Regions from separate parts of the Homo sapiens genome. Here regions 1 and 2 are each linked to region 3. The links come from fine-mapping of genetic effects on gene expression. A gene starts in region 3. Each other region holds a variant in brackets. All regions are shown on one strand. Distances are between the middles of the regions. Region 1 overlaps LYG2 (lysozyme g2). Region 2 overlaps AFF3 (ALF transcription elongation factor 3). Region 3 holds the start of AFF3 (ALF transcription elongation factor 3).

Evidence for each region.
Region 1: its variant is fine-mapped to the expression of AFF3 in anterior cingulate cortex (GTEx, PIP 0.93).
Region 2: its variant is fine-mapped to the expression of AFF3 in whole blood (TOPMed, PIP 0.95).

The regions. Positions count from the first base shown.
Region 1 is chr2:99,250,831-99,255,189 of GRCh38, forward strand. LYG2 (lysozyme g2) reads right to left here. Exons shown (of 7, transcript NM_175735.4): 2 at 4,190-4,307; 3 at 3,388-3,455. The coding sequence starts at 3,430. Among named protein-coding and RNA genes, the nearest start is that of LYG2, 2.7 kb to the right of the region's middle. The variant G/C (reference allele first, on the strand shown) is at 1,924.
Region 2 is chr2:99,557,009-99,561,008 of GRCh38, forward strand. AFF3 (ALF transcription elongation factor 3) reads right to left here. Exons shown (of 25, transcript NM_001386135.1): 21 at 3,357-3,428; 22 at 1,867-1,960. Among named protein-coding and RNA genes, the nearest start is that of REV1, 69 kb to the left of the region's middle. The variant C/G (reference allele first, on the strand shown) is at 2,356.
Region 3 is chr2:100,140,589-100,144,947 of GRCh38, forward strand. AFF3 (ALF transcription elongation factor 3) reads right to left here and starts at 2,002. Exons shown (of 25, transcript NM_001386135.1): 1 at 1,896-2,002.

The DNA of each region.
Region 1 (4,359 bases), 890 kb before region 3:
AAACAACACAAATGTCATTAATTTAGGGACTGGTTGAGTAAGTGATGCTACGTCCACAGTGGAGCACTATGCAGCTGCAAAAGGAAAGAATAAGACCTGTATATACTCCTGTAAAATTCTCTCCAGGGACAAAATAGTATTTATAGAATTGTACTCTTTGTGTAAGAAAGGTAAGAAAATACAATCGTATATTTTGTGTGATTTGCTCATATTTTCAAAAGAAACAATACAAGGATGAATGAAAAACTGATAAAAATTGTTAGTTATGGAGAGAGTAAGAGGAAGGTAAAGGGAACAGGGATAGGGGATAGACTAACTATCTTTTTTAAAGTTTTTATTTTGGAACCATGTAAATGTTATCATAAATTTTAAAATTAAATCAAATGGGGAAAAATGGAATCATAAAAAAGAAGAACAAATGAACATAACTCTATAACAAATTGAAAGATTAATAAACACATAGAGGAGAATTATCTTAAGTGACTTTAAAATATATCCATATAAGTCTATACCACTACATAGGAATCCATCCTGTGAACATAAATAATCACAAGAAAATCTTAAATTATATTTACTGTCTCATTGTTGGTTGGTAATACTGTCATACTTATTTTGACACTATTGTATGTAAATAAGTAATAATGCTAATGTCATTAGAACTAGGATTTTTAGTGTAAGATAGCAGAGGTACAAATATAAAACTGATGTAAAATGCTTGCATTCTTAAATATAAATGTGAAATATCTGAATGCATAGTTGTTTTCCTTTTAAAAATATATATTTTCTAGTTCCTGCCACTGAAAACACCTGAAATAAACGACAGCTCCATAGCAATGGAGCACTTTTACTTCCCACACTGTGGTCTCTAAATACCATTTCCTGCTAAGTGGAACCAGCGCTCCTCAGAATAATGGCTGATTGCCTGCCTGGGGCAGGAAATGTTCAAGATGAACCAGGAACATCTTTTTGTGCCAGAGCTGGTCCTTATATGTTAGAGACACATTAAAAAAAAAAATTTTTTTTTCCAGATGGAGTCTCACTCTGTCGCCCAGGCTGGAGTGCAGTGGCCATTCTCCTGCCTCAGCCTCCCAAGTAGCTGGGACTACAGGTGCCTGCCACCACACCTGGCTAATTTTTTGTATTTTTAGTAGAGATGGTGTATCACTGTGTTAGCCAGGATGGTCTCAATCTCCTGACCTCTTGATCCGCCTGCCTCGGCCTCCCAAAGTGCAGGGATTACAGGTGTGAGCCACCGTGCCCAGCCCAAAAATTTTTACAGGTGAAATGTTTTTATCTCACTGCAAGCTCCGCCTCCCAAGTTCATGCCATTCTCCTGCCTCAGCCTCCCAAGTAGCTGGGACTACAGGTGCCTGCCACCACACCTGGCTAATTTTTTGTATTTTTAGTAGAGATGGTGTATCACTGTGTTAGCCAGGATGGTCTCAATCTCCTGACCTCTTGATCCGCCTGCCTCGGCCTCCCAAAGTGCAGGGATTACAGGTGTGAGCCACCGTGCCCAGCCCAAAAATTTTTACAGGTGAAATGTTTTTATCTCCCTCCCTTCCTCTCACTCTTTCCCTCTCTCTTCCCTTTTTCCTCTCACTCTCTTACTGTTCGTTCCTCTCACTAGAAGATAAATTTCATTAGGTCAGATACTAGATGTTTTTCTCTGCTATATCCTCCTCAGCACCTGGAACAATGCTTGGCACAAAGTAGACATTTAATAAACATTTGCTGAATGGAAGAATGGATAGTTGGATGGATGAAGGAATGAGACAGAAAGGGATTGTTTAAATTATCTGGATCAAGTGTCCTTATATTGACAGGTTCAGTATCCTTTCACTGGGAGGCAGTCTTTGCCAGGCTCACTGTGTGGCCCACAGACCACAGGCATCAAAGTTACCCAGGAAGCTTATTAAAAAT[G/C]CTTATCACTGGGCCGGGCGTGGTGGCTCACACCTATAATCCCAGCACTTTGGGAGGCCAAGGCGGACGGATCACGAGGTCAGGAGATCAAGACCATCCTGGGTAACACAGTGAAACCCTGTCTCTACTAAAAATACAAAAAAATTAGCTGGGCATGATGGTGGGCGCCTGTAGTCCCAGCTACTTGGGAGGCTGAGGCAGAAGAATGGTATGAACCCAGGAGGCAGAGCTTGCAGTGAGCTGAGATCGCACCACTGCACTCTCCAGCCTGGGCGACAGAGCAAGACTCTGTCTCAAAAAAAAAAAAAAAAAAAAAGGCTTATCACTGGGCTTTTCACACCAGATCTACTGCACCAAAATCTTGCAGTATAAGGCGAAAGAAGCTGCCTTTTACCCAGCATTCCCAGTTGACTCTTACACATGTTTATGAACCACTGCTTTAAGGGAACTGGAATATGACCATGGACCCTACGCTGCCTGTGTAGGCCTTATAAACACACAAGCCCTTTTTAAATTAAGAGTCACCTTTCAGCTATACACAGCTAATATGGTAGCTCATAATTAATCTACTGGCTATTTAACTCTGCTCTCACCTGGCAATCTAAAAAGAGTAAAAATTTAAAACTATGTTGCCCTGTTTTGACCATAAGTAACTGGAAATTACTTTCGGGTAGCCTTGTTTTTCCAAATTTAGAATTAAACATTTTAGAAACACTTTCCTTTCAGTCACCATTCTATAATTAAAGACAACTTGAACATTGCTCATAATGGCTTTTCATTTTGCTTAGGTCAGAGTTTTCACATTCTCTTATTCAAGATCCCTTACCAACTTACCAACCTATCTTTCCAGCCTTCCCCCCAGAAACCCCCTCGTCTGTCCAGACCACACTGACCCAAAGACTTTTCATTCATTTCTGCCTCTGCTTTTTTACTGAAATCTTTCTTCCCATCCAGCAGGCTCTTCCTTTTTCTTATTAAATCACCAAGCATCCTTCAATTGACATGTCCCCCCCAAAAGCCTTTCACATCTGAGCATTCTAGTTGGATGTGAGCTCTTCCTCCCAAACCTTTCCCAGACTAGTGCTTTTTTCCCACCTATACACATTGAACTCTCATCCACTGCTTGGCATTGATAATTGTCTCTTCATGTGTTTTGCTTCCAAGGCACTGTTCCATATACCTCTCGGTAAGGTATCCAGCCTGATAGGTGCATTGTCAGACAGGAAGTAAGCAGATCAATAAATATTAGATTATTTGAAATTCCCATAGATCCTGTTTTTCACCTGCTTAGCAAGCAGAACACACTGTTAATTATAGAAATAATAGTTGATTAATGGCCAAGCTGGTCAGAATGAGAGCCCACTCTTCCATTACAGGTAATCATTGCTCTTTCTGATTCATGATTGTGCTGGAGGTTTTTGTGGACACCCTGTGAACAATGCTAAATCTCAGCCAGTGACTTACCAATGAGGGCAATTAGTCCCCAAAACACCACGGAGGATAACATGGCGGGGAATCTTATCTTCCAGGACCTGCTCTGATTTGAAATAGAAACTGGTTAATTTTAAAACCTGAAAATTTCCTAAAGAAAAATTTGCTTTGATATTTTAAAAAGTTTAGAGTTATTTCCAATTCACTACTCATTTCCCTGTTTCAAGATAGTATTCTCACAGGCTCAGTACATAGTTTGTTGGCACACTCTCTTTCTTAAGCATAAACTCCTAATCTCACTTCAATCCAATTTCATATTGACATGAGTCATGCGTATCTTACATATGTAACTAAATATACACTCCCATCCCACCTCTAAGCTTGGTAACACCACAATTTTGTTCCCTTTCTTTTTAAAAAAAAAAATACTGATCTTTTCATTCTAGTTATTCACCCTACCCCTGGCTTCAAGGATCAGTTTTGGTCTTTCATTCATTTATTTAGAAATGGGATCTTGCTCTGTCACCCAGGCTGGAGTGCAGTGGCATAATCATAGCTCACTATGGCCTCAAACTCCTGGGCTCAAGCGATCCTCCCACCTCAGCCTCCTGAGTAGCTGGGGCGACATATGCGTGCCACCATGCCTGGGTGTTTCCATTCTTATACCAGGGTCTCCGTAGGGAAAACAAAATAAAACAAAATACCAACAGGAGCATGAGAACGTGACTTAGAAGAGGTTTCCTCTGCTCCATTTCTTCCTCAATCAACTCTATTCTTGGTTTCATTCAAATGGTAGCTTATAAGTTTTACAAGACATAAGAAGGCCAGCACTAACCTTGTTTGCAACCTTACAGAGAAAATCTCCCCTCTCTGTTTGCAAAGGTCTTCTGTACTCAGCAGCAAACTGCACTTCAAGCTTTTACAAAGCGACGGCCTTTGTCCTGTAACATAGGCTTAACAATTGGAGAATCCATTAGTCAGTAGATCACTGCGCACCTGGCTTCA
Region 2 (4,000 bases), 580 kb before region 3:
AATAATGATATATAGTATACTTGAAAATCTCTAAAAGAATCGATTTTAAATGTTCCCATCACAAAAACGGTAAGTATGTGAGGTGATGGATATGTTAATTAGCTTGGTTTAATCATTCCACAATGTATAAATATATCAAAACATCACATTATACATAAGTACACGCAATTTGTTGTTGATTAATTAAAAAAATTTTAAAAATAGCTTTTGATGAAGGGTAAATGACATTAATTCCTTGAGGAGCAACTCTGATTTTCTGGTTGTGTTTTCCTTTTTTTTTTTTTTTTTTGAGACAAAGTCTCACTCTGTCGCCCAGGCTGGAGTGCAGTGGCGCCATCTCTGCTCACTGCAACCTCTGCCTCCCGGGTTCAAACGATTCTCGTGCCTCAGCCTCCCTAGTAGCTAGGATTACAGATGCCTGCCACCACGCCTGGCGTGTTTTCTACCCATTCTGTATGTATTAGTGGGCTGCAGAGAATATTAAGAACTTGTATCCCTTAAAAGTTTGTTGTAGCCCCTGGCGGCTTACAGAATTCAGCTTCCTTCTTTATTCAAGCATTTTCCTTGACTGTAATAATTCTCTTTAGTAGTAGATCTTACGTTCTGGATTTTTGAACACTATTGATGTTGACTTTAGGCACCTGAAGGAAAGGGAAGGCTCAGTGCTGGTTCTTGTCCTGAAGACACAGGACGGTCAATGGGCTGAGAAAGTGATGTCCATGGCCTAGCACCTGGTTACTCTACATGCACAATTGGAAGGCAGTGTGCTGAACATACCCCAGGAACCCCCAGCACAGCCTGGCCATTAGAGATCACCTCTAGAGGAGGTTGGGCATGAACAGATCTCAAATGATGGTTGTGTATCTGACAAAGGGCTGTTGGAGATAGAGACGGCATAATTTCTAGTTTCTATAGATAAACAGAGAAGAGGACCAGAAATCTCAAATTAATTATTAATGTAAGGTCGACCTCACAACAGTACATCAGCGAAGGCTTTTAAAAATTTATTCTCCCAGTGAAAATAATTTCATTCCCTGAGATAAGTAAAAGGTGGCATGGTTTGCAATTTTATCCCTATAGCTACACACTGCTATCTACTGCTTCTGAGTTCTAACAAGCCATCTCTTACCATTTTAAATAACGCCATTAAAAATTAAATAAGCTACTAGAGACTGGCTAAGAGGGAATGGCTCTAAGGGGTTACTTCTAAGGAAAAGAAGCTCTAAGTGAGCATGAGGAATTTATGTTAGCTATAAAGATGAATTTCCTAGGACAGTGGAACGAGTAACTGGATCTTCTTTCTCTTGAAGCCATAAAAATACCTGGACAAGGCTGGGCGTGGTGGCTCACACCTGTATTCCTAGCACTCTGGGAGGTGGAGGCGGGGAGATCACCTGAGGTCAGGAGTTCGAGACCAGCATGACCAACATGGTGAAACCCCATCTCTACTAAAAATACAAAATTAGCCAGGCGTGGTGGTGTGCGCCTGTAATCTGAGCTACTTGGGAGGCTGAGGCAGGAGAATTGCTTGAACCCAGGAGGCGGAGGTTGCAGTGAGCCGAGATCGCACCATTGCACTGCAGCCTGGGCAACAAAGAGTGAAACTCTGTCTCCAAAAATACATAAAAAAATAAAAATAAAAAAATAAAAATACTTGGACAAGAAGGCAGGGAGATACATTAGATGGGCTCTCAAAGGTCCATTCTGAGGCCTGAAAGCCACAAGTGTGGCATAAATGGGGTTACCTTGGGGACCAGAGGTGACCTGCATTAACCCCAAAGCAATGGAGTCTACCAGGTGCTTCACAAATTTGACAGGGAGACAAGTGAAATTAAGGAACAATTCTGCTCATTCACTAGACAGTACCTTGAAATAGTCGATTAGTGCTTTTGAATACTTTACAGCGTGGTCCCTTTTGAGTCGAAACATCCGCCAGTACAGGAGGGCCAGGCATCGGTAACTGCAGGCGAAAAGAGAAACAGGCCCAGAAGCGGCTGAGTGCGTCGTGCGCAAACAAGACTTAAACATTTTTGTTGTTGTTCTAAGGTACTCAATAACAATACCTTGTTTCTACATAGGAAATCTTTCTATACGTGCATATAATGTCTGTGAGGGAACATCTTTTGTCCAAAAATAGAATTCAAAATTCCAAGAAGGTATTCCATAAATACATTTATCACTAGATAATTTTACAGCATTAGGTGAATCACTCTGTTGGGTCACAGGGGCCGGCCGCTTCCTTCTTCCACCACGAGAGGGCGCTGTCTCTCCACGAGAGGCGCGAGGTAGCTCTAGTACGCAGCCTTCACTGCTTCGCGGGCGAGCCCCGCTCTGCGGAAAGGACGACGCTGCCAC[C/G]TGATGTTACTGAACTATAAGCAGCTCCACTAAAGTCACAAACATGAATGTACTTTATAAACAACAAAAACACTATGCTGGGAATAGGTGCCATCATTATAAACAACAAAAACACTATGCTGGGAATAGGTGCCATCATTTTATTATTTCCTATAATATTTTGTATACTTATTTATATATCAGTATTCTATCTTATATAATCATATTATTGTCATTTAGTGTATTATTCCAATATGGGACTTAAAGTTTGAAAGGGGCACAAAAGGCGTTTCTGAGACTTATCCTCTCTTCCTTGGAGCTCTTCACTCAGTTATTTGCTAACTCGGATCTGATGCTGACATCCAGAATACCAACATTCTGGGTGCAATGGCACCATCTCCTCCTACCAACCAAATCCAGGACAGGTAACAATTTGAGACCTTTTTTGTGTCTGTTGCTGTTATTATTATTTTTTAATTCAACTGTCTTTATTTCACTGCTTGGTAGACATGTATTCTATCAACATTCTCTGCCTTCCACCTACTGATGAGTAAGAAAGGGCTGACAGGTAAAGGAACTATAGGTTACCCGATCGTTCCCTTTTTTCTGTGGCATCATTTTCAAAGTAAGCGGCTGCGCCGGGTGCGATGGCTCACGCCTGTAATCCCAGCACTCTGGGAGGCTGAGGCAGGCAGATCACTTGAGGTCAGGAGTTCAAGACCAGCCTGACCAACATGGTGAAACCCCATCTCTACTAAAAATACAAAAATTAGGCCGGGCACAGTGGCTCATGCCTGTAATCCCAGCACTTTGGTAGGCCTGTCGATTTTCAATCACTGTGAATTCAGATCATGTATAGTACGGCAGCAAAAAATGGTCTGGACTTTCCCTGGTCATTAGAACTGCTCTGGGGCTTTGTATGTTAGAAGACATTGGGCAAACACTATGCCTTTCAGCACCTGGTTTGCCAATGATGGCATGCGAGGCTGGGGCTGCTATTCTAAGCGGAGATGGGCACTCACCATAATGCAGCCAGTTGTTTGTCTTCTGGTGTGGCATTGGGGCCTGAGTGGGTTTTTAGTCTCATAGCATACCTTAGAAAAAGCGGGGAGGAGGAATAGAATAAAAAACATAAAAAGCAAAGAAATAGTAAAACTAGCTTTTTTATTAACAGAACTTCTATGATGGTAGTTCTCCCTGCCTGATCCTTAGCTTTTCATAGTACTTGCTGATAATTCTTTCTTAAAAGCTAGCTGGTGCTGCTCCATTTTCCCAAGTATTACATTACTGTGATGACTAGAACAGCTACTTTCTGCTCTTTAACAGTACAAGTTCAAATGCTACAGATTGTCGGGAGTGATACCAGTTCAAGAACTATTCATGTATATGCTAACATGTCCATTTTTCCACATTTTGATTTATGGCTGAGTGTCTGACAGATGGAGGTGAAGTTCTATCCTTCTGTGCTTACCTCCAGAAGAATTTCCATCCTGGGTATGCAGAGGAATGCTTAGATTTACCCCTCTTTCTTTGTTATGTAACTTTTACTTTGACAGCTACATAAGTGTCCTGAGTACATTTTTAATCTCTGTTTGCTTCTACAGACAGATACTACGAGAAACTAGTGGCTTTTATGGACTGCACTTAATTCCATTTATTTTTCTGA
Region 3 (4,359 bases):
AACAAAATGTGTGTAAAATGCCGAGCACCACGTCTCACACCTGAGAGGCACTGAATGCATGTTATATACTATCATTTGGATGTCACCGTTCCATGTGCCTATTTCCTGGTTTGCTGTACAAGATGTGTATGAGTACATGTCATCAAGCCCACAGAGCTCCAGAACATGTTCCTCTCACAAGCAGGCCTCATAGGGAGGGGTGTTCTGTGCTGTTCCTCTTTCCTGCTCACTACTTGTCTGTAGCTACAGTGTAAGGACTGTAATGTCACTGCTCTGGCCTTAAGTGTCACCCCCCAAACCCATTTTACACACACCACCTCCCACCTTTCACCTTTCCCAAACTCTTACCATGTCCCTTCAAGTTTGATGGCTTAATTGTACAAAAGGTAGTGATGATGATGATGATGATGATGACAATGATAACAGCTGCTAATACTTACTGAGCCCTTTCAATGTTCCAGGCACTTGTCTAAGCACTTTACATGTATTAGCTTATTTAATTCTTAAGAGGAAGGGATTACTATCTACTATTGTACTTGTGTTACAGATGTGGGAACTCCGATGCAGAGATGTATAGTGACTTGCCTAAAACCATCATGTTAGAGTGGGAATTTAAACCTTGAAATCTGGAAAATAAGCAATGTATATATTTTTCTATTTTCTAAATGCAAATCAAATATACATATGCATAACACCACTAAACACTAAGTGCAGTTACGCCTAGAACAAGGGAATAGCAGTTGACAGAAACACAACCAAAACTAAGAATATTAAATGTCTGTATTACTTTCACTGTAATCACTTCACTTCAACAGTGAGATGGGATAGCCCTAGGTAAAGGAAGGTGCTCTTGTAGTTAGAACATTCTTAAATTTTGCACCAAGGAACACATGCTTTTAATAATGGCAGAGACAACATTTTTTGATGGATTATTTAGTTTGTACGATCAACATTCAAAGAATGAGTTTACCACCACTTTGTTATTGTAAACACTTGACCTTTAGCTACCTGAATGATCCCCTCTTTGAATAAAAGGAATTATGAAACACATGTGTAGACATATTTCATTTTTATATATGTGAGACTCGAATAGCAAGGAAATCACATATTAGGAAAAAAACCCCTTTGTCTTGCTATTAGTTCTCTTTGGTTTCAAAAATCTGGTCACTGTGTATATTGCATTATATCATATGTGTGTGTACATATATATACACACATAAACACACATACACACAATGTCATGTGTATAAATACATGATGTGTTTATGCACATACACAGACACACACACACAAATACACACATATACAATGTTCCATCCAAGAAATACAAATATAGTGCTGTTAGCCCCTAACAGTGAGGAGGTCATTATTCCAAGTCATTTCTGCAGAAGTGACGGTGGCCTTAGGTGGAACTGCCCATGATCTCTCCTTGCAAGCTCACTCACTGGGGCCATTGACTGGGATCCAGTCTGTGGCCATGTCATGGTTTCTATTTTTGAGGTTATAGCTAATGAGCAACATGAGGTTAAGACACACTTTTCATAAGGCCCCAGCCAGCATCATAAATATGTGTGTGAGCATGTTCACACTCAGGTTATGTCTTCTTTATGTGCACCCTCTACCACACACACACACACACATGCACACGCACACACACTGACGGCTTCAGTGACCAACTTTGGTCACATCCCATCTCTTCCTTCTCAATCCCTCTGGCTGTTCACCAGGGCCTGGACCATCTCGGTGAGGCTGACCAAGAATGCTCCCCCTGCCCTGACCAGCGGAGCATGGGCACAGCTACTTAGAGCGCCACCCTTCAGGACACAAAGTCGGGGCTACCTCTCTTCCAGGCAAGGCATCCTAGAGGGCCCGCACACCCTCCAGTTTGATCTTACCTCTCAGCTCCCGTTCCTTTTCTTTCTCTCCCCAGTAAGTCGTTGAACGTCTTTCTTCTGAGGCTGAGCGTGGAGCTCTCTTCTCGCTGGCGAGCTTTCTGAATGGCACTTTCTGTACAAACAGGAAGAGCATGTGTGGTCACAACCCAAGTGTGCAGGTGTTGATAGAGGATGTGAAAGTGTGGAGGCGAGTGACTAAACCAGATACCCAACCGGCCAACTCTCACTTGTGGCAGGGCCTGGTCTACCAGAAGGCTGGAAGCAGGAACCTGGACTCTACTCTGGGGAGACCAACTGACAAAAGCAGAGGATGGTGGCCCTGGAGGCCAAGGGAGAAGGTCTCTTTGACTCCTGTGCTTTCTAACCCTATGCAGACCCATAAAAGAATCCCAGGAACATTTTGGAATCTCTTAGATATATGATTATCAAGAATGTTGATTTCAATGGGCTGCTTAACTTGTCCAAAGCTCTGCTGGTTTCCCAGGCTGTCTGGGCCTCCAAGAGATCAGGACCAAAGGCTCATCCTGCATTGGAACTGTGACAAGTCTTCCAGACCTTTCTAGAACAAAGCTACACCAGGAAAGAAGAGTCTTAGGCAAGGAATCAGATGTCCTAAGGCTGCTCTACATGACCTACATGATGGGTGTTACCTCCTCATCTCCCATTCAGTCAACCCACGGGCACTGGACTTCCTGCCCGACACCCTTCCCTCTCCCCATTCATGCCTGGAATTATTTTCACTAATGACACCAGGGATTCACTAATGGATGCTTTTTCAGTTCCTGTCCTATTTGTCTCCACTGGCAGTGTTTGACTTCCCTGTAGTGTTGACCATTTCTTTCCTCCCAGAACTTCTGCCTGGGCCGCCATGACTCCATACTCTCCTGGTTTTTGTCAGGCGGTCTCTCACACTGGCAGGCTTCCATTCTTTGGTCTTAATTTTCGCCCTCCTGCAAGCTCCACTCTCCGCCTCATGGTTCCTGTTCTCCATGGGTGGCCTCTTCCCAGCTCCAGATGGAACTTGCCAAGCCCACATCCATAGCATCACACATTTCTGCTGTTCTCCTGGAACATCCCCCAGCACCTCCCGTCAGACTCGCCACAATGAAACCCTGCTCTGTCCTCTACCCCACTCATTACTTACCATGTGGCCTGTGAATTCCCTCCTGCCTTGTCCCAGCTTGCTCCTCAGGTCTCTACCCCCTTCTGAGTTTACCACCTTCTGATCTCTCACTTTGCCTCTGCTAATCTGGCTTCTTCAGGTTTGACCCTCCATTATCCTCATCCAAACAGGCCCGTCCTTATCCTGAGAATGGATACCTAGAAACTTCCCCACCCAGTCCTATCCCAAGCCCTGGGAAATTATCCCAGTATTGTCTGCCTCATGTCCCTGGCAAGGAGAAAACGTTTCTTTATCTTATACCCAAACCAGAAATGGGGAGGCTTCCCACGTTCTTCTCTTTGCTGAATACTCTTCAACCTTCCATCACCAAGCCCTGCCCATTCTACCTCTTCAGTCACTCCTCAGATCCTTCTTCCCGTCCGCATCTCCACAGCCACACCCTCCCTCCATTGCCTCTCATCACTGCCCTAATCCCCAAGGGGTACGTGCACCCAGGGCACACCAGACCGTTCACTGAAGGATGAGAAGAAAGGAATTGAATGTCTATCTACCCACACTTGTCTGGTTTTTGTATTTAATTAAGACTCACATACCATAAAATGAGCCGTTTTAAGATGGGGAATCCTGTGGCATTGAGTACACTCACAATGCTGTGCAGCCACCACCTCCATCGAGTTCCCAGACTTACATCTATTTTTACGTCATGTTTTTAGTGTTTACATTTTGTGTATGTTTCAAGGCATGCAATGTGTGAATACAGTTGTATTGTATATCATTTGTGAATAATCATACATCTGCTCAGAATAGGCGGCAAAGACTTTTTTGCTGAAGAAGATACAAAATTAGAAAAGTGGGGACACGTGACCTCCTAACTCATCTCTCACATGTCAGGCTCTAGAGTGTTTTCCAAACTGCCTCCAAATTTTCTCTGCAAAAGACTACAAAAATGATGACAGTACACTCCCCTCACCCCACGACCAGTCCTTAAACGCTTCAATGGCTCCCTGTCACCCACAGGAAAATCCCAAGGCTCCATCGCTGGGCAGGCGAGATGTTGGATTCAGTGGCCTCTGCCCACTCCCCAATACCATCTCTTGCCATCCTTGATACCACTTCCTTCCTCACCACCCAACAATCCCACCACCACTCATGGTTTCTTGAACTTTCAGGCTGCTTTATGTCACAGCTTTGCACATGCTATTTCCTCTTTCAGGGTGCCTTCACTTCCATTGGCTATCTGGCAGATCCCCATGGATATTAAAAACCCTTCCATCCTGCTCATCTCAAAGCAGAATTCCTCACCTGTGCGGGCTGAAGCCATTGCCTTCATGTTAGATGATA